2 separate regions of the Homo sapiens genome follow, and region 1 is linked to region 2. The links come from fine-mapping of genetic effects on gene expression. Tissue or cell type: whole blood. Region 2 holds a variant in brackets; the other region holds the start of a gene. All regions are shown on one strand. Distances are from middle to middle.

What was found. PIP is the estimated chance that this variant, and not a neighbour inherited with it, causes the effect.
Region 1: it holds the start of VWF, and the variant in region 2 is fine-mapped to the expression of VWF in whole blood (TOPMed, PIP above 0.99).

What each region holds. Positions count from the first base shown.
Region 1 is chr12:6,120,659-6,129,907 of GRCh38, reverse strand. VWF (von Willebrand factor) reads left to right here and starts at 5,238. Exons shown (of 52, transcript NM_000552.5): 1 at 5,238-5,487; 2 at 6,712-6,766; 3 at 8,570-8,734. The coding sequence starts at 6,712.
Region 2 is chr12:6,151,089-6,162,078 of GRCh38, reverse strand. The region is part of intron 1 of LOC124902866 (a long non-coding RNA gene); the gene reads left to right. Among named protein-coding and RNA genes, the nearest start is that of VWF, 32 kb to the right of the region's middle. RefSeq lists an enhancer at 2,489-3,062. The variant G/T (reference allele first, on the strand shown) is at 5,787.

The DNA.
Region 1 (9,249 bases), 31 kb after region 2:
TGTTGTTGACTTTTACAAAACTGAAAGCTTTTCTGCTTTATAATTTAATCGTTTTTAAAAATAAATTTTAAGCTTATATTATGAAGTGCACATAAATCTATAGATTCCATCTTCCTGGTGCATTGATCTTTGTATCACCTTTTTCTACTCTTTGGTGCTAATGATGACTTTGATCTTAAGGTCCACTGTGTGTGATAGTGGTATAAAACGCTTTTCCTTGGCCATCACTTGCCTCTCCTTTCTTTTCCTTACGGTCTTTGTGTGTTTATATTTTAGGACTGTCTCTTGAACATTGCTGGATTGTGTGCCTTTTTAAAGAAATCCAATTTGATAATCTCTACCTTTTTATTATTGATTATTGATCTGTTTGAATTTTTTGTACTGTTGCATTTACATTTTATACTATTTGTCTTGCTTTTTCCATTTTTCTCCTAGATCAATCTAGTTTTTAAAAATTTCTTGTTTTTTTTCGATAGGTTTGGAAAACATACATTCAATTCTATTCTTTCAGTAGCCTCCCTTAAAATCTTACTATGCAGTATAGCCTTAACTAAGTCTAAAGTGATCATGACCTGTTTCTTCCTTCTGAGCCATGCAAGGACCTTAATACACTTTCACTCCTGTCTTACATGTCATTGCTATCTGGTATTTTGGTTCTAATTTTTAATAACTCTCCAACTTATCATTACCATTGTTATTGTTTTATATAATGACTGCCTGCTCATATTTACCCCCAGATTTACTATTTTATTTATTTACCTTTTCTTGGCATCCTGTTTCTAGGCTGAATTTTCTTCTTCCTGGCAGGGCGAGGTGGCTCACACCTGTAATCCCAGCACTTTGAGAGGCCGAAGCAGGAAGACTGCTTGAGCCCAGGAGCTCTAGGAGTTTGAGACCAGCCTAGGTAACATGGCAAAACCCTGTCTCTACAAAAAAATACAAAAATTAGCCAGGTATGGTGGTACATGCCCATAGTCCCAGCTACTAGGGAGGCTGAGGTGGGAGGATCGCTTGAGCCCAGAAGGTTTAGGCTGCAGTGAGTTGTGACTGTGTCACTGCGCTCCACCCTGGGTGACAGAGACCCTGTCTCAGAAACAATAACAAAAAATGTTTTTTCTCCCTGAAATTCCTTCTTTAGTAGTTTCTTCAGAAAGGACTGTTAATGTTAAGCCCACTCTGTTTTTCCAAAAAAAAAAAAAAAAAAAAAGTCTATGTTTCCTCAACTCTGAACAATAATTTACAGGTAGACCAGATGTTACAGTCCCTCTGCCACGGCCCTCTAACCCCATCTCTCCGTTTCTTCTAGACTACCAGTGTCTGCTCCTCCGTGCCTGAGGGCCAGAAGTGTTGAGGGCTGAATGCCTCCTGAAGCAGCCTTGACAATAACTGACAGGAAGGAGTAAGTGTAGAAACTCTCCTGCTCCCTGACCCAAGAGTGGGAAGATTCAGAGGCATGGATCTTACATTTTCCCAGACTTCCCTCCAGAAGGAAGCTTTCTTGTCCACTTGGTGGCTGGCATAATAAACATCTTTTATTGACTGCTTTCCCTGCCCCGTATCACATTCCCACTTCCCTGCCGATGCTTCCTGTCCTCCCAAATCAATTATCTACACTAAAATACTCAGGGTCTGCTTCTGGGACTTCAAACTAAGACACTGCATATAGAATTCTCCACAAATGGACTTCTTCTCTCAGCACTTCTCTTTGGATCTTCTAATTCTATCATGTTTCTTAATTCTGCCTCCATTTTTTTTTTTTTTTTTTTTTTTTTTTGAGATGGAGTCTCACTCTGTCACCCAGGCCAAAGTGCAGTGGTGTGATCTTGGCTCACTGCAACCTCTGCCTCCTGGGTTCAAGCAATCCTCCTGCCCCAGCCTCTTGAATAGCTGGAATTACAGGCATGCACCACCATGCAAGGCTAATAGTTGTATTTTTAGTAGAGATGGGATTTCAACACGTTGGCCAGGCTGGTCTCGAACTCCTGACCACAAGTGATCTGCCTTACTTGGGCTCCCAAAGTGCTGGGATTACAGGCATAAGCCACTGTGCCTGGCTGCTCTTCCATTTTTTCATCTCTATATTTGAGTGATTTCTTTAGAACCATTTTTCAGCTTTTTTTTTCCCAAAAATATCTGGTGTTTTTGAATTTTTCAATTAATTTACTATATACATTTCTTAAAGTTCTTTTTTTTTTTTTTTGGGACAGTATCTCACTCTATTGGCTAGGCTGGAGTGCGCGATTATGGCTCACTGCAACCTCAACCTCCTGGGCTCAAGGGGTCCTCCCTCCTACCTCAGCCTCCTGAGTAGCTGTGACCACAGGCATGCACCGCCAGGCCCAGCTAATTTTTTATTTTTATTTTTTGTAGAGATGGGGTCTTGCTGTGTTGTGTAGGCTAGTCTCAAATTACTGAGCACAGACAATCCTCTTGCCTCTGCCTCCCAAAGTGTTAGGATTACAGGTGTGAGCCTCCACGTCTGGCCTTAAAGTTCTTTTTCAAGTTTTCCTCCTGTTCTTTCTTTTTTTTTTTTTTTTAACGGACTCTCACTCGGTCACCAGGCTGGAGTGCTGTGGCATGATCTTGGCTCACTGCAGCCTCCGCTTCCCGGGTTCAAGCGATTCTCCTGCCTCAGCCTCCAGAGTAGCTGGGACTACAGGTGCGTGCCACCATGCCCAGCTGATTTTTGTATTTTTAGTAGAGATGGGGTTTCACCATATTGGCCAGGATGGTCTTGATCTGTTGACCTTGTGATCCACCCACCGTGAGCCACCGTGCCCTGCCTTGAAAAAAGTTTATTCTTTGTAAAGACAGGGTCTTGCTGTGTTGCCCAGGCTGGTCTTGAACTCCTGGTCTCAAGCGATTATCCCATCTCAGCCTCCCAAAGTGCCAGGATTATAGACATGAACCACCGTGCCTAGCCTCTATTATAATTTTAAACACTCATTTTTTTCTTTTTATCTTTCTCTGATGATTTTATTATCTGAAATTCTTAGGGATTTAATTCTTGCTCATGGTAGATTGTTTTCTCAAGTGTTGAAAAATTTGTGATTTTGAATTCATCGTCAAGAGAGCTTTATTTGCATGAGTGCAAAGGATGAAAATTCTAGACTGGGCGTGGTGGCTCACGCCTGTAATCCCAGCACTTTGGGAGACCGAGGTGGGCAGATCACGAGGTCAGGAGTTTGAGACCAGCCTGGCTAACATAGTGGAACCCCATCTCTACTAAAAATACAAAAAATTAGCTGGGTGTAGTGGTGTGTGCATGTAATCCCAGCTACTTGGGAGGCTGAGGCAGGAGAATTGCTTGAAGCCGGGAGGCAGAGGTTGCAGTGAGCCATGATTGCATCACTGCACTCCAGCCCAGCGGACAGTGCGAGACTCCATCTCAAAAAAAAAAAAAGAAAGAAAAGAATATTCTAAAAAAAGACTTAATTCCCCCCGCCACCCCACCCCAAAACAAGTGGAGACAGGCAAACTTCCTTATCTTCTAGGTTGGGGGATGGATTTTTTTCCTGGTCCACTGTTTGGAAGATGTTTCCCTTCAAACTTTCAGCTTTTGCAGGGATCTCCGTTCTAGTTCTCCCTCTGGGTCAGGCCCGTAGCTGCACTGCCCATTCTTGTAATGTGCGGCCTCCAGTCTGGAGGGTTCCCAGACTGGCCTACGCTAGGCCACCCATGGGCCTACCCTGCCTCATGCTCATTTAGGCTCCTCTTCCTCATTGACCCTTTAAGATATTCCTTACTTTCCTCCCAGATCAACTGTGGATTTAAAGAACATTTGTTGTATTTAGCACAGCATTTAAAGATATTTTGTAATGAAAGGGTTTTCAGATTAGTTATTTAGTTTTTTTAAATAAGAGCTGGAAGTGGAAATCCCGATGGCCTTTTCTTTTCTTTTCTTTTTTTTCTTGAGACGGAGTCTTGCTCTGTCACCCAGGCTGGAGTGCAGTGGCTCGATCTCAGCTCACTGCAAGCTCCGCCTCCCGGGTTCACGCCATTCTCCTGCCTCAGCCTCCCGAGTAGCTGGGACTACAGGCGCCCGCCACCACGCCTGGCTAATTTTTTGTGTTTTTAGTAGAGACGGGGTTTCACTATGTTAGCCAGGATGGTCTTGATCCCTTGACCTCGTGATCCGCCCACCTCGGCCTCCCAAAGTGCTGGGATTACAGGCGTGAACCACCGTGCCCGGCCCCCCAATGGCCTTTTCTACTGTCTCATGCTGATTCTGCCTCTGGTGCCATTTTTCTTCCTTGGGAGTGTGCATCTTCCTCTCCTGGGGCGGTAAAGGGAGTAGCAGAGTGCGAGGTATGTGGGAAGGGAGGAGGTTGGAACCTAGTGGTTTCTCAAAGTCTTAGGGCAGGAGGTATCATGGAGAAGCAGTGAGGAGGTCTTCCATACCCAGACATGCCTCAGGGTGCTTGTCTCAGTGCCTGGAATCCCAGCACGAGAGTCATCTTCCCCCCACCGCTGCCCATTGCATCAGTTACTTATTTTAGTAGGAATTAGTTTAGCAGATGGTGTTGAGAATTAGGCTTTTGGGAATGGGAGGCTGGGAAGAAGAATTGTGTGTGTGTGTGTGTGTGTGTGTGTGTGTGTGTGTGTGTAAGATCAGGGTACCAGAAGTGGGTGGAAATGTCCTTGAGAATTAGAATTATTAGAATGTAGCAACAGTAGAAGTATTAGACTCAAACCATCACTCCCCACCTTCACCATTTTACAAAGGCTTAGGCTTGTGGCCAAGACCTTCATCTTTAGCCGATCCATTCAACCCTGGCCAGGATCCAAATGGACTGTTTTTGTCAGGGCCAGGACCGGATCCTTCATACCTGGGGTGCATAGGAAGTGTTAGTACTCCCCTTCCTCCAAACACAGCAGCAAAATTGGCTCAGGTTGAGGTGTTTTTCTCAACTTCCCTGGAGTCCAGCCCTGGAAGCTGGATCAGGAAGCTGTGTTGTTCTACTGTGATTCCCCCTGGCCTGTATCAGCTTGCCCTGAAACAACCAGCATTCCTGGTTATCCCACACAGGTGGGGCACTCTAGGAAGACCAGGGATCAAGTGTGGGGGTGTAGGGATAGGGGGTGTTTGGGGAGGGCAAGGCAGTTAATTAAGGCAGCTGCCAGGAGGTCTCCCTCCAAACTCTACAAAGCTTTATCAGCTTGGAGGTACTTCTAATACCATTTCCTTTCATTGTTTCCTTTTGGTAATTAAAAGGAGGCCAATCCCCTGTTGTGGCAGCTCACAGCTATTGTGGTGGGAAAGGGAGGGTGGTTGGTGGATGTCACAGCTTGGGCTTTATCTCCCCCAGCAGTGGGGACTCCACAGCCCCTGGGCTACATAACAGCAAGACAGTCCGGAGCTGTAGCAGACCTGATTGAGCCTTTGCAGCAGCTGAGAGCATGGCCTAGGGTGGGCGGCACCATTGTCCAGCAGCTGAGTTTCCCAGGGACCTTGGAGATAGCCGCAGCCCTCATTTGCAGGGGAAGGTATGGCCTTTGGAAGGAGAGCTGGCTCAGTTGTGGGAGGAAGATGCAGGACTGACTGATCCCTGCTCCTGGGGAGCTGGAGTTCTCTGTCGCTGGACTAGAAGGGCTTTGTTTGGAGGGGCAATTCAATTCAGCCAGGGATGATCCTAATACTCCCTCCTCCACTTGCCTCTGAGGGTCCTGGGGCTGCTTTTCTTCATGCAGTGGGTTTTACTGTTTGATAGTACTTCACTCAAATGAGTTGGAATGAAGTTTGCCCTCACCTCTGAGAACCTGGGAGCAGCTGAATGTACCTGCGTGTTAGGACTGGGAGGGGACACCTGCTTGGAGACCGAGACCTGGCAGTATCTGACATCTCAGTGTTCCTTCCACAGATGTATCACAGATTGGCTTGATTTCACCTTTGGCTGGATGGGACCTTAGGTAGGAAGGGAGTCACCCCCAGTGAATCTCAGGCAGCAGATTCTGCACTTCATTTAACAACTTTTCCCGAGGAGAGGGGCTACAGCAGGGGCTCTAAGTGACTTGGGGTACGCTCTGCCAGCCAGGATGAATTGTCCCTCTCTTGGGGGTCACACAGTGGGGAAGTCTGCCTGCATCCAGGGCCGCTGGACTCCTGTCCATTTTTTCAGATGAACTCAGCAAACATTTGCTGGGCATCTCCTGGGTGCTAAGCATCTTGCCAGGTGCTGGGGTTGGAGGCAAGGGAGACAGCCTTTGCTCTTGTGAAGGCACTTGTGGTACAGAGTCAGGGGCCAACAAGCAAACCGTCAAGTTGGTGGTTCCTGAGCATTCTCTATGTCTGGGCTGCTGTGGTGGGCACACAAGTGTAAGACGGTTCCTACTCGCCAGTTTGGATGCAGAGGCAGGAAGGAATGAGGTGTGTGTTAGCTCCCAGCTGCTTCAGGAGGCAGGGATGTGAGGCCCAGCGGGCCTGGAGGGAAGGCAGCGTTTTCCTCCTGTCTTGGGCCTGGGACTGCTGTCTGTGGAAAGGTGCCCACAGGTCCCAGCTCACAGCGATTGTTACCCTTGGGCCTGGCACTGGCCAGGGGTTTTTTCGGGGGCCAGAAGTCCATGTTCAAAGGGGAAAAGGGGGTCACGAGGATCAATCTTTTCTCCTGCTTTAAAGAAATGTTTTTGCTACTGCATGCCCTGATAGTCGCCACACCAGCAGCCGCCTACCTGGGCAGCAATGACCAGCTCACGTCTCTTGCTTCTTTGCAGATGATTCCTGCCAGATTTGCCGGGGTGCTGCTTGCTCTGGCCCTCATTTTGCCAGGTAGGTACAAAAGGGCCTCCATTTCTCATTCCTGCCCCAGGGCCATCTGGAGTGACACCTTTCCGGGAATCAGCAGGTGTGTCTGGAGCTCACCTGTGTGCCCAGCCCTAACTTAGGCTGTTGGTTGCCTCCTGTGAAGGTTCTGCGGAGTTCCCACCCTTGACTTGTATTCCAGAGACCAGGTGCCTGCAAATGCCATCTCCTGTTGGGGAATTAAGAAGCATAAAGGTGGCACAGAACTGTCCTATATTATGGGGGCACAGGATGAGGAGGAAGGAATCCAAGACTTGGATGGATTATTAGTTTTCGATAAGATTGTGGAGGTCACCTTGTTGAACCTCCCATGGTACAATGAAGAGACTGAGGGTCAGAGAGGAGAAATGACTGCTCCAAAGTCTCCTAGAGCCAAAATCAGAGGTCAGTCTTCCTGGGTTCCAGGCCAACACCCTTTCCACTGCACTGCATCATACTGCTGCCCTTCCCTTGCTAAGATTCTGGGTCTGCAAATGGCGGGAGGGGACTTTTGACCTTGGGCGCTTTCCACTTAGATCTCTCAGGTCAGCAGCATCCAGCTACTGCCCACAGGTGAGTCTGGGAAAAAAAATACACATTTGTCACACTCTCTGCATCTTCCTACTAGGTGGGTCTTTTGCCGGGGAACCCAGAACACTTAGAGATTTACTGCTGTATTTCCCCACCTGCCGACACACACACACCCATAGTCAGTGAAGGAGTTAGCCTGTGACGCCGGAGGAGTTCACACTTCAGAGAGTCTATGTGTCAGGCACACAGTCTGATCTGTTTAAAATTTAACATGCCCAAGACATGCTAGTAGATTTATGTACAAAGATGCTCACTGCAATCTATCTATAATATTAAAACATGGAAAAATGCTAGAAACCTAACAATAGAGGGCTATACTATAGACATTCAGATGCAAAATATAATGCAGCCACTAAAAACCGCATATTGGAAGTATATACACTAGCACGACAAATTGTTTACAATCTATTGAGAAATAAACAGAGGTTATAGGTAGTTTGCACAAGTTGGTCACCAATTTATAAAAAACCCACAGCTGTATATATGCTATACAACAAAATGGAAAGATGAACATTGAAATGTTAACTCTAATCATCGCTGAATGTTGGGTTACAGATGGTTTTAACTTCTTTGTCTTTTCTTTTCTTTTTCTTTTTCTTTTTTTTTTCGAGACAGAGTCTCACTCTGTCGCCCAGTCTAGAGTGCAGTGGTATGATGTTGGCTCCCTGCAACCTCTGCCTCCTGGGCTCAAGTGATTCTCCTGCCTCAGCCTCACCAGTAGCTGGGATTACAGGCGCCCACCACTACACCCGGCTAGTTTTTGTATTTTTAGTAGAGACAGGGTTTCGCCATGTTGGGCAGGCTGGTCTTGAATTCCTGACCTCAGGTGATCTGCCCACCTCGGCCTCCCAAAGTGCTGGGATTATAGGCGTGAGCCACTGTGCCCGGCCAGCTTCTTTGTTTTCTTCTGTATGCCCCAAATTTTTAATAATGGACATGATGACATTTTAAATCAGTAAGTAAATGTCATTGAAACTAATGGATTTCCTGAAAAACTGTTCCTTAGTTATTGCTGTGAGTCTGGGGTCATATCTGGGAGCTGAAAGCAACAGCTTTAGTCTCATTTAGGATGGAAAATACCTCCCCACAGCCCAGTTTCTATCAGAGGCAGTCTAATTTCTACGAGGCCAGAGAGGTTTGAGCTGATGGTCCCAGTTGTGCCCTGAGATCACCAGCCCAACCTGTGGCCTCTCCCTCCAGGGACCCTTTGTGCAGAAGGAACTCGCGGCAGGTCATCCACGGCCCGATGCAGCCTTTTCGGAAGTGACTTCGTCAACACCTTTGATGGGAGCATGTACAGCTTTGCGGGATACTGCAGTTACCTCCTGGCAGGGGGCTGCCAGAAACGCTCCTTCTCGATTATTGGTGAGTTCTGGGCACTGCAGGGAGGACTTCAGAGGGAGGGCTGGCTGAGCTTAGCCCTGGTGTGGGGGAGGATTCCTGCTCTCAGGACAGTGTCTGAGCGGAAAGGTCACTGCTGAGAACAAGGAGAGGAACAGCCTTTCTGTGACACGTAGCCCCTCTTGGCTTTCCCCGGGTCTCTCCCCACGGGAGCCGGGTGGGATGGATGAAGAGAGTCTTCATCTTTGGTAGTCCACTGTGTCCGTTGCTCTGGGGCCCGGCGATGCCCTGGGAACTCCACAGCATCAAGGCAAATGATGAACTAGAGAAGGTGCTTTGGAACGTGTAAAACTCCTTGCCAGAGAGAAGACTCGTTGTTGTTTTCTTGGTGGCCTGTGGATCAGAACATCAGCTTATGCTGAGGACTTCCTGTATTCCTGCAGAAGGGCTGGTACTGTCCCTGCCATGTCCCTGCATCCCCACAACAGCCCTGGGATGTAGCTGTAGTCATCCCAGTTTTACCAATGGAGAACCAAGGC
Region 2 (10,990 bases):
CCAAACTGCTGGGATTACAGGTGTTAGCCACCATGACTGGCCCCAAATTCGCCTTTCCTTCTACCATAGTCATTGATTTAGTTGAAGACATGACTCCCCAGAATAAAATCTCTATTTCCCAGGCTCCTTTACACCCAGGGTAGCCACAGGGACAAGTTCTGGCCAATAGGATGTGAGTAGAAGGGGCGGAGGCAACCTCTGGGCATGTCCTTAAGCGGCAGGGGCCTCCCTCCTTCATTCCCCGGACCCGCAGCTCCATCCCCGCACGCCCCTGACCCAGCTTCCTCCTTCTGGCCGTCCAGAGGGCAGATGTGGTGATGGGCTGTCTGAGCCCATGAGATGAGGCCAGCCTCCCAGGGTGGAACAGCTGGGGCTGGCTCTCTGCCCTGTGGAGCTGCTGAGCAGCCCTGGACTACTTACGTTCAGAGAATTCCATGAGGGAGAAATGCATCCTAGCTCATTTCCTCCCGGGTGTTTGGGGCTGTTGCAGCAGTCAAGTTCATAGCCTGACCATGTGATAGTGAATCCCACAGTGACCTATGTTACTTCTCAACCAGCAGGTTACTAACGTGCTGCTTTTGTTCAAGGATGGGAGTTGAAGCTGGGAAGTGTGGAGGGGAGGTGGGTGCAAGAATTCCCTTGAGAAGGGTCAGGAAGTCATCACTCGTCAGATTAGTCCCACAGACTTCGTGGGGGAGGCAGGACTTTAGGAATGTTCACAGTGTAGATATTCCTTCTTCCCCTACCGGTTCCCCCATGTCGTCTTTTTGTCCTTGCTCCCCTCCTCTCTCCCTGATCATCGTCCTGGCCCGGCACCCACTCCACATTCCTGAGGATATGGTGAGGAAGAACGAGACCCATTTTTGCCTTGCAGGCTGGTTATGATACAGACTCAGGCCTCTCAGGTCCAAAACCTGGGCCATCCTCCACCCTTCTCTCTCTCCCACCCCATGTAGACTTCGTCAGCAGATCCTGCCAGAGCTATTTCAAAATATGACCGGATCACCCCTTTCCATCCCTCCTCTCCTGCTCTAAGCCCCCATCATCTTTGGCCTAAACTTTGCTTTAGCCCCCTAATGACTCTCCATGCTTCCACCCTCATCCCCACCCCCGCTAACGCAGTCTGTTCCCAACAGAGCACCCAGAACGATTTCCTTAGAACGTAAATCAGACCATGTCACTTTTCTGCGCAATTTTCCAGTGGTCCCCATCTCTCTCAGAGGACACTCCAAATTCTTTTCGTGGCCCCCAGGGCCCTAACTGATGCTCCCACCTTGCCCCTCAGCATTTCACTTGGGTGTGCCTAGAGCACAGCAGGCGTGTTCCTGCCTCACGGTGCTGGCGTGCAGCCCTCTTTGTCTAGATTCTCCATGGCTTGTCTGTCACACTGTGTCTGGAATTGGTGGGTTCTTGGTCTCACTGACTAAGAATGAAGCCGCGGACCCTCGCGGTGAGTGCTACAGTTCTTAAAGGCGGCGTGTCTGGAGTTTGTTCCTTCTGATGTTAAGATGTGTTCGGAGTTTCTTCCTTCTGGTGGGTTCGTGGTCTCACTGGCTCAGGACTGAAGCTACAGACCTTCGTGGTGAGTGTTACAAGCTCTTAAAGCGGCGTGTCTGGAGTTGTTCATTCCTCCTGGTGGGCTCATGGTCTCTGTGGGCTTAGGAGGGAAGCTGCAGATCTTCGCAGTGAGCGTTACAGCTCATAAAAGCAGCGTGCACCCAAAGAGAGAAAGAACAAAACTTCCACATTGGGGAAGCCAACTCCAGCGGGTTGCCACTGCTGGCTCGGGCAGCCTGCTTTTATTCTCTTATCTGCCCCCACCCACATCCTGCTGATTGGTAGAGCCGAGTGGCCTGTTTTGACGGGGTGCTGATTGGTGCGTTTACAATCCCTGAGCTAGACCCAAAGGTTCTCCTCCTCCCCACCAGATTAGCTAGATACAGAGTGTCCACACAAGGTTCTCCAAGGCCCCACCAGAGCAGCTAGATACAGAGTGTCCATTGGTGCATTCACAAACCCTGAGCTAGACACAGGGTGCTGATTGGTGTGTTTACAAACCTTGAGCTAGATACAGAGTGCCGATTGGTGTATTTACAATCCTGAGCTAGACATAAAGGTTCTCCAAGGTCCCACCAGAGTCAGGAGCCCAGCTGGTTTCACCCAGTGGATCCCGCACCTGGGCTGCAGGTGGAGCTGCCTGCCAGTCCCGCGCTGTGTGCCCGCACTCCTCAGCCCTTGGGTGGTCGATGGGACTAGGTGCCAGTGGAGCAGCGGGCGGTGCTCGTCGGGGAGGGTCCGGCCGCACAGGAGCCCACGGAAGAGGGGGGTCTCAGGCATGGCGGGCTGCAGGTCCTGAGCCCTGCCCCGCGGGGAGGCAGCTAAGACCCGGCGAGAAATCGAGCGCAGCGCCGGTGGGCCGGCACTGCTTAGGGACCCAGTACACCCTCCGCAGCTGCAGGCCCAGGTGTAAGCCCCTCGTTGCCCGGGGCCGGCAGGGCTGGCCGGCTGCTCCGAGTGCAGGGCCCGCCAAGCCCACGCCCACCCTGAACTCCAGCTGGCCCGCAAGCTCTGCGCGCAGCCCCGGTTCCCGCTCGCGCCACTCCCTCCACACCTCCCTGCAAGCTGAAGGAGCCGGCTCCGGCCTTCGCCGGCCCAGAAAGGGGCTCCCACAGTGCAGCGGTGGGCTGAAGGCCTCAAGTGCCGCCAAAGTGGGAGCCCAGGCAGAGGAGGCGCCGAGAGCGAGCAAGGGCTGTGAGGACTGCCAGCACGCTGTCACCTCTCAATATCAGGTCTCTTCTCAAGTGGCACCTGTCGCAGAGGCCCTCCGGGGCTATTCTGCATAAATACCACCCACTCTTGTCACTTGCTGTCCCCCTTACATTACTTTATTCTCTTGCTAGCCCTTATCACCATCTGATTTATATTTGCTTTCTTGTTTTTTGGCTTTTTCCCTCCATTAAGTGTAAGCTCTTTGTGTGTCTTGTCTGGCAATCTGTACCTCCACTTTCGACAGCAATGCCAGCAAGCACACAGCCGGGGCTCAGTAGACGCTTATAGGACGCTGAGTGGCGTGTGCTGGATGTGCTGCTGTGCAGAGCCCAGAAGCCAAGCTGCCCCTGCATGGCGTTCAGAGGAGGGATGGCTGGACCTGATACTCGGAGAGTGACGGGGAGGGAGTGCTTGGCCTGGGTCTGCTCAGATGGCCGCCGGGCCAGCCAGGCCATTGCTCTGACCTCAGTTCTGGAGAGTTCGGATTGGTGGCAAGGGAAAGGGCAGGAGCTGAGGAATGGATGGTTCCATTAATCATGGAACTTTGCCCAGAGGGGTCAGAGGAGTAAGGCAGGGGATAGAGGGAGAGATAGCATTAGACAGAAGGTTCTGGTGGCAGGGGAGGGGCTGGGGGGGAGAAAAGGGATCGGGGTGTGGGTTCTGGCTCAGCCTTTTCCAGACTTTGTGGCTGCTGCTGCAGTCCCAGAGTCTACTGGGGCCCCGCTGTCTGCTTCCTGGCCTGGCTGTTTGTTTATTTGGCCAGTAGTTTGGGCAGCCGTGGGCCTCTCTTGCTGACCTCCAGGGGAGGAGTTAAGTACATACTGCCTCTCAGGTGCAGCAACTAAAACCGTACAGGAAATGTTGAGGTGCCAGTCAGCAAGAGGGCCAGTCCTGGGCTTCCCCTGCCAGGGCCCCCTAGGAGCAGATACCCACCCCCACTCTTTCTCATCCCCAGCTCCTGTGGGAGTGAAGTGGGCTTCCTGTGCTTTCCAACGGAAACTTTACTTGGTTCTCTTCACAGCCAGCATTGATTCATTCTCTTAGTTGGCAAATACTTGTTAAGTACTCCATGCTACCAACGAGCTAGGAATACAGACAATCTTGGTGTAGAAAAATTCATCTTTAATGTTCATAGCCTTCCTGGTCAGCACCCATTCCTCCTCTCACTCATAGAACCTTTCCCCACATTGGGGAGAGGCTGGTTAATGGATACAAAGTTACAGCTGGCTAAGCTGAGGGGAATAAGCATTAGTGTCCTGTACCACTGTAGGGTGAAAGTAGTTAACAATAGTTTCAAGTATAGTTTCAAAAAGCTGCAAGGTAGGATTTTAAGTGTTCCCAGCACAAAGAAGTGATCGGTGTTCAAGATGTTAGATATGCTAATTACCCTGATTTGATCAATATACATCATATGCATGTATCAGAATACCACTTTGAATCCCATAAAAAATGGACAATTATCGTCAACAAAAAATAAAAGGGAAAAAACACCAAATATCTTTCCCCACATCAATTTCGTGTCCTAGGCTGGTGCTGTGTGCCTGGGAGCAGTGGTGTGTTGATCAATGTTTAACAAGTGACTCTTTGGAAGAAAAGCCATGATCTGTAGTGTCTGCCAATTTCTGTGGTGTAACTATTTCCAGCGTGTCAGATTCCATGCCACCCATGTGATGTTACTCAATGGAAAACTGGGAAGACTTCACAGTAACACACCATTATGTGTCATTTCCATCACACAGATACAGACATTGGTATGTATAACCTCAAGGGTATAGATAATAGTAAAATATAAAATAATTAGGAAGTATGAGTTTTGAGTCGTTATCTCTGTCTTAAATGTAACTTGTTTTACGATGATTATATATACTTTAGTATTTAATAATGAATGTATTTAACAACAGAGCCACAAAATTCCTGAAAATGTAAAAACTGGCTCTGCAAGCCAGGATCACTGCCTGTGAGCTTGTTGGAAATGCAGATTCTTAGGCCCCACCAGCTCTACTGAATCAGGATCTGAATTTTAACATTTTTAACAATACCCTCAGGTAATCCATATACATTATACATTTAAAAAGCATGCCCTAGGGGAAATAACTGTTTATTATTTCATTGATATCTTTTCAGAACTTTTCCACAACACAGATGTGTGTATTTTTAAAAATTTTGTTTTTAACAAAAATAAGATCACGCTGTAAATGTTTTGCAAGGTTTTGTTTTGTTTTCAACTTAGTAACATGTCTGATATCCTTCCATGTCAGTCTGTAGAGATCGCGTTATTTTTAATGTCTCTGTAGTATTTTAGGACATGAGTAAATCATGATAAAAAAAAATCATCTCTTGCTGGGCACAGTAGCTCATGCTTGTAATCCCAGCACTTTGGGAGGTTGAGATGGGTGGATCAATTGAGACAAGGAGTTTGAGACCAGCCTGTGTGACATATCAAAACCCTGTCTCTACAAAAAATACAAAAAAATAGTTGGGTGAGGTGGCTTGTGCCTGTAGTCGCAGCTGCTTGGGAGGCTTAGGGGGGAGGATCGCTTGAGTCTGAGGAGGTCTAGGCTGCCGTGAACCGTGATACTGCCACTACACTCCAGCCTGGGTGACAGTGAGACCCTGTCTCCTCCCCGCTCAAAAAACCTTCTCTGAACAAACACATATTGTTTTCCCCTTTTGCTTCAAGAAACTTTATAATTAAAAAGAAAGTTTCCTTGAACTGTCTTTGAATTTCCTTAACAAAATATACCTCAAAAAAACTTCTGAAAGCTAATTTATACCAAAGGGTTAGTGGCTGGCAATAATAGTTTTACAGCGTTTTCCTTCTTCCCCAGATTTAAACAGTTTACATTTTATCAATATTGAGATATTTTATGCATAATATTCTGAATAAGCTGCTAGGGAATAAAAAGAAGTTAGACGGGCTGGGCGTGGTGGCTCAGGCTTGTAATCTCAGCACTTCCGGAGGCTGAGGCGGGTGGATCACCTGAGGTCAGGAGTTCAAGACCAGCCTTGCCAACATG[G/T]CGAAACTCTAGTCTCTACTAAAAATGCAAAAAAATTAGCCAGGCGTGGTGGTGGGCGCCTGTAATCCCAGCTACTCGGGATGCTGAGGCAGGAGAATCGCTTGAACCCGGGAGGCGGAGGTTGCAGTGAGCCGAGATCGAGCCACTGCACTGCAGCTGGGTGATGAGCGAAACTCCGTCTCAAAAAAAAAAAAAAAAAAAGAAGTTAGACATGGGCCTGACTTTCACACGCTGACAGCCCTCCAAAGGGAATGCAATAATCATGAAATGAGGCAAATAATCATAAAATGAGGCACGACATATAGATACAGAACTGTTCCCAGCATCTGTAGTGCCATAAGAACATCGGAGAAGGGAGGGTAGAAAAACCTAAACTAGACACTGGGTGCTACCGATGACATTAGAGAAATTGATGGATAAGTGGGAAGGTGTCTGTCCTGTCCTCAAACCGCAGCAGGCAGCCTTAGGCTAAGGGCTGGTGGATGTAGGATAGGATAAAAAGAGAGCCCCAAGGGCAGTATTTCTACAGGGTGAACCTGGTACCCTTTTCTTCACAACCACCCTAAAGGGAAATTTTTCCCCCCACCCTTTTTTTTTTTTTTTTTTTGAGACGGAATCTCGCTCTTGTCACCAGGCTGGAGTGCAGTGGTGCGATCTAGGTTCACTGCAACCTCCGCCTCCCAGGTTCAAGCGATTCTCCTGCCTCAGCCTCCCGAGTAGCTGGCATTACAGGCGTGCGCCCACCACGCCCAGCTAATTTTTGTATTTTTAGTAGAGACGGAGTTTCACCAGGTTGGCCAGGATGGTCTCGATCTCTTGACCTAGTGATCCGCCCGCCTCAGCCTCCCAAAGTGTGGGAATTACAGGCATGAGCCACAGCACCCGGCCCCCACCCTTTTTTTCTCTAGCCCTAACATCTGGTTCCTTAATCTTCAGGAACCCTGATCCGCAAAGATGATAGCAGTTCTGCTTGGTTCCTGTCTGAGCCTGGATCTGGATCTGGGAGGTGCTGGCGGGGTCCTGTTCTTCCGCTCTGGTGGGAATCTGATTGTGATCAGCATTGGGCCGCATGCCAGAGACGGCTGCAGTCCTGTGCCTGGCCTGGCCGGCCTCGGTGCTACCCGCCACCCCTCACGTCTTCCCTTCTGGCTCCTTGTACGTCACTGGTCAGTCCGCGAACCCTGACTCTCCATCAGTGAGCTGTGTGGCACTGGGCAAGCCTCTGCCCTTCTCTACTTCCCAGGGTACAGAGTGAGCTTCCACCTTTTGGCTTGATTCTCCTTCACATCTTGCCCACCCAGGCTTCTGACCGAATCTAGCAGCTCAAGTCAAATTCAGCTGGAAATTGGCTGCTGAAGAAGCTGTCTTTCACCCTCTATAACTGAGGACTTACTGTTCCTAACTGTTGCTAAGTGGGGGCTGTTTTCTTTGAGGGAGTTTTTTCTTCTTTAGCAATTTTATATATAAAATAACAAATGCAAAGTATGTATTATGAGACATGCTAACAAAATGAACATCTGTGAACCCACTACCCCATCTAAGAATTAGAACATTATCAACAGGGTTGTATGTGCCTATGTGTTCTTTCCTGTTCTGTATGCCTGTCTCCCTTGAAGAGATAGCTATTACCCTGAGTTTTGGTGTTTGTTATTTCCTTGCTTTAAAAAAGTAGCTTCATCGGCCGGGCGTGATCCCAGCGCTTTGGGAGGCTGAGGCGGGTGGATCACCTGAGGTCAGGAGTTTGAGACCAGCCTGACCAACATGGTGAAACCCCATCTCTACTAAAAATACAAAATTAGCTGGGTGTGGTGGCATGCGCCTGTAATCCCAGCTACTGAGGAGGCTGAGGCAGGAGAATCACCTGAACCCGGGAGGCGGAGTTTGCAGTGAGCCAAGATCACGCCATTGTATTCTAGCCTGGGCGACAAGAGTGAAACTCTGTCTCAAAAAAAAAAAAAAAAAAAAGCTTCATCACATATGTTTGTATCTACAAACTTTACTTGTTTACTTTTGCTTGTTTTTGAGCTTTGTAAAAATGGTGTCATATTGTATATAGTTTTTTTTTGGTTGTGATAAACGGTAATGCTGTGAGTATTCTTGCATAAATCTCTGTATGCAGCAGTTCCCATGCACCAGCGTTTCTTCTAGAGAAGTGCAATCGATGAATTCTAGGGCATGTAAATGCTCAAGTTCACAGATTGTTTTGCCAATTTCCAATCCCACCAGCAGTATATGTAAGAGTATATGCTAGAATAATCATCGTTTATTGAACAGCCCAACTTTTTCCAATTGACCTACAATTGATCTCTGTTATCTAAAAAATTTCTATATATCTGTGGGTCTGCTTTTTGGCTTTTAACCTAATTCATTGATCAAGTTGTCTAAACCTGCACTAATATTATTCAGTCTAAAATGCTATGGATTTATAAGAAGTCCTGATGTTGGGTAAGTCCTGCCATCTCACTGTTTTCCTTGAAGAGTAAATTGACTATTTCTGGCCCATTGCATTTTGGCCTGTTGCATATATCAGAATCAACTTGTAATTTTGATTGGCATTGTATTGAGTCTATATCTCAGTTTGGACAGTGCTGACATTGTTGTGATATTGAGTCTAAATATCCATGGTATAACTCTCATATTAGTTAGGTTTTAATTAATGCCTTCTAATAAATATTGTATTTTTTCTTATGTATCCTGAGCATCTTTTTTTTTAGATCTGTTATTATGTAACTTATAGTTTTGTTGTGTGTTACATGAGTTTTTTTTACAATTTTTTACAATTATATTTCTGTTGCTGGTATATAGAAATGTAGTGGATTTTCAAATATTCATCTTATATCTGATGTTGCCAAAATGTCTACTGATTTCCAATATTTTATGTGTAGATTCTTTTGGGACAATGATATTGTATGTCATTAATGAGAGTTGTTTAGTTCTGGTCTTTTTTTTTTTTTTGAGACGGAGTCTCTGGAGTGCAGTGGTGTGATCTCGGCTCACTGCAAGCTCTGCCTCCTGGGTTCACAGCATTCTCCTGCCTCAGCCTCCTGAGTAGCTGGGGCTACAGGCGCCTGCCACCACGCCCAGCTAATTTTTTTTGTATTTTTAGTAGAGACAGGGTTTCACCGTGTTAGCCAGGATGGTCTTGATCTCCTGCCCTCATGATCCGCCCGCCTCAGCCTCCCAAAGTGCTGGGATTATAGGCATGAGCCACCGCGCCCGGCCCTAGTTCTGATCTTTATGATTTTCATTTATTTTTCTTCTCTTGTTTCATTGCCCAGAATTTCCAATGTAGCTTGAATGGAAGTGGCAAGAGTTGGCATCTTTGTCTTTTTTTTTATTTTTAAGGGAACTGATCTTCTATTTCTTACATTTCCTTATTAGAATGATGAGTCACACGTTTTGTTAATTAGGTTAATTTTTTTTTTTAATTCCTAGTTTACTAAGAGTTTTTATGATGAATAAGTAAATCTGGCAAATGCTTTTTCTGCAGCTATGGAGATGCCTATATTTTTACCCCTTAATTTGTTAATGTAGTATATGATTATGATACAATTTTAAATGTGAAAACCACCCTAAATTTCTGGAATAAATAAAACTTGGTCATAACGCACTCTCTTTTTTAATAAAACGGTTGGATTCACTTGCGAGTATTTTGTTTAGGACTTTTGCACCTATGTTCATGAGTAAGTTTTGCCAGGGATTTTCTTTTTCTTATACTGCTCATGTCTGGTTTTGGAGTCAAAATTGTATTGGAGACATCATCTGAATTAAAGCTAATTTTCTTTGTGGCAGAGTCCACTGATGGTTCTCTAATGGTTATTCTGGCCTTCTAACTTTTAACAACAAAACCCCAGTTTTTAGCTGGATACAAAACTGAAGATTATATTTCCCAGCCTCCCTCATAGGTAGATATGGCCATGTGATTAAGTTTTGACCAGTATCCCTTCATCAGCACCATCGTCAGTCAATTCTTTGTAGTTTTGAGTCCTGAGATTTACGATTCCAGCTTTGAGAAATAGGTCTTTGAGGGCATTTGTTTCTAATAGTGATTAATTTCATTAAAACTAAAAACATAGGCAGGGCGGGGTGGCTCACGCCTGTAATCCCAGCACTTTGGATTGCTGAGGAGGGCAGATCACGAGGTCAGGAGTTCGAGACCAGCATGGCCAACATGGTGAAACCCCATCTTTACTAAAGAAAAAAAATTAGCTGGACATGGTGGCGGGCACCTGTAATCCCAGCTACTTGGGAGGCTGAGGCAGGAGAATTCCTTGAACCTGGGAGGTGGAGATTGTAGTGAGCTGAGATTGCACCATATCGCTCCAGCCTGGGCCACGGGACGAGACTCCATCTCAAACAAACAAACAAAACTAAAAACATGATCTAGTAACTAGATTTCTTGATTTTTTAATACATCAGGGTAAAACAGAAATACCTTCATTGCTTCTTGACCTATATTTGAAGCTTCTGTAGATACCTTCACATAGTAGGAAGTCTAGCAGTTCTCAAGGCCCTACACCAGCCATTATATGCATGAAAGAAGATCAACTGTGAAAAATTTTTGGCTTTTAAAAATGTATTTACCAGGCGTGGTGGCTCACGTCTGTAATCCCAGCACTTTAGGAGGCTGAGGTGGGTGGATCATGAGGTCAGGATATCAAGATCATCCTGGCTAACACGGTGAAACCCCATCTCTACTAAAAATACAAAAAATTAGCCGGGCGTGGTGGCGAGCGCCTGTAGTCCCAGCTACTCGGGAGGCTGAGGCAGGAGAATGGTGTGAACCCGGGAGGCGGAGCTTGCAGTGAGCCAAGATCACGCCACTGCACTCCAGCCTGGGCGACAGAGCGAAACTCCGTCTCAAAAAAAAAATGTTTTTAAAGGTTTCTTCAATTATCAGAAAGTTTGCACCTATGTATTAGTTCATAATAGGAACTAATATGACTTTCATATTAAACTGATAATATTCTGCATTTTATATGCATTATAGCAGAATAGACTGAATTTTACATTTTTCATGATGATTTCTTCTTTGACCATGAATTGGAAATATATTTAGAAGTTTCTAGCCATATGGGAATAAAACATAATTATATTTTGTTATTTGCTTCTAATTAAATGTATTATGCAGGGAAACACATTGATACTGATTCTTTGAAATCTGTTGAGAATTGCTTTGTGGTTTAGTACTTAGGCAGTTTTTT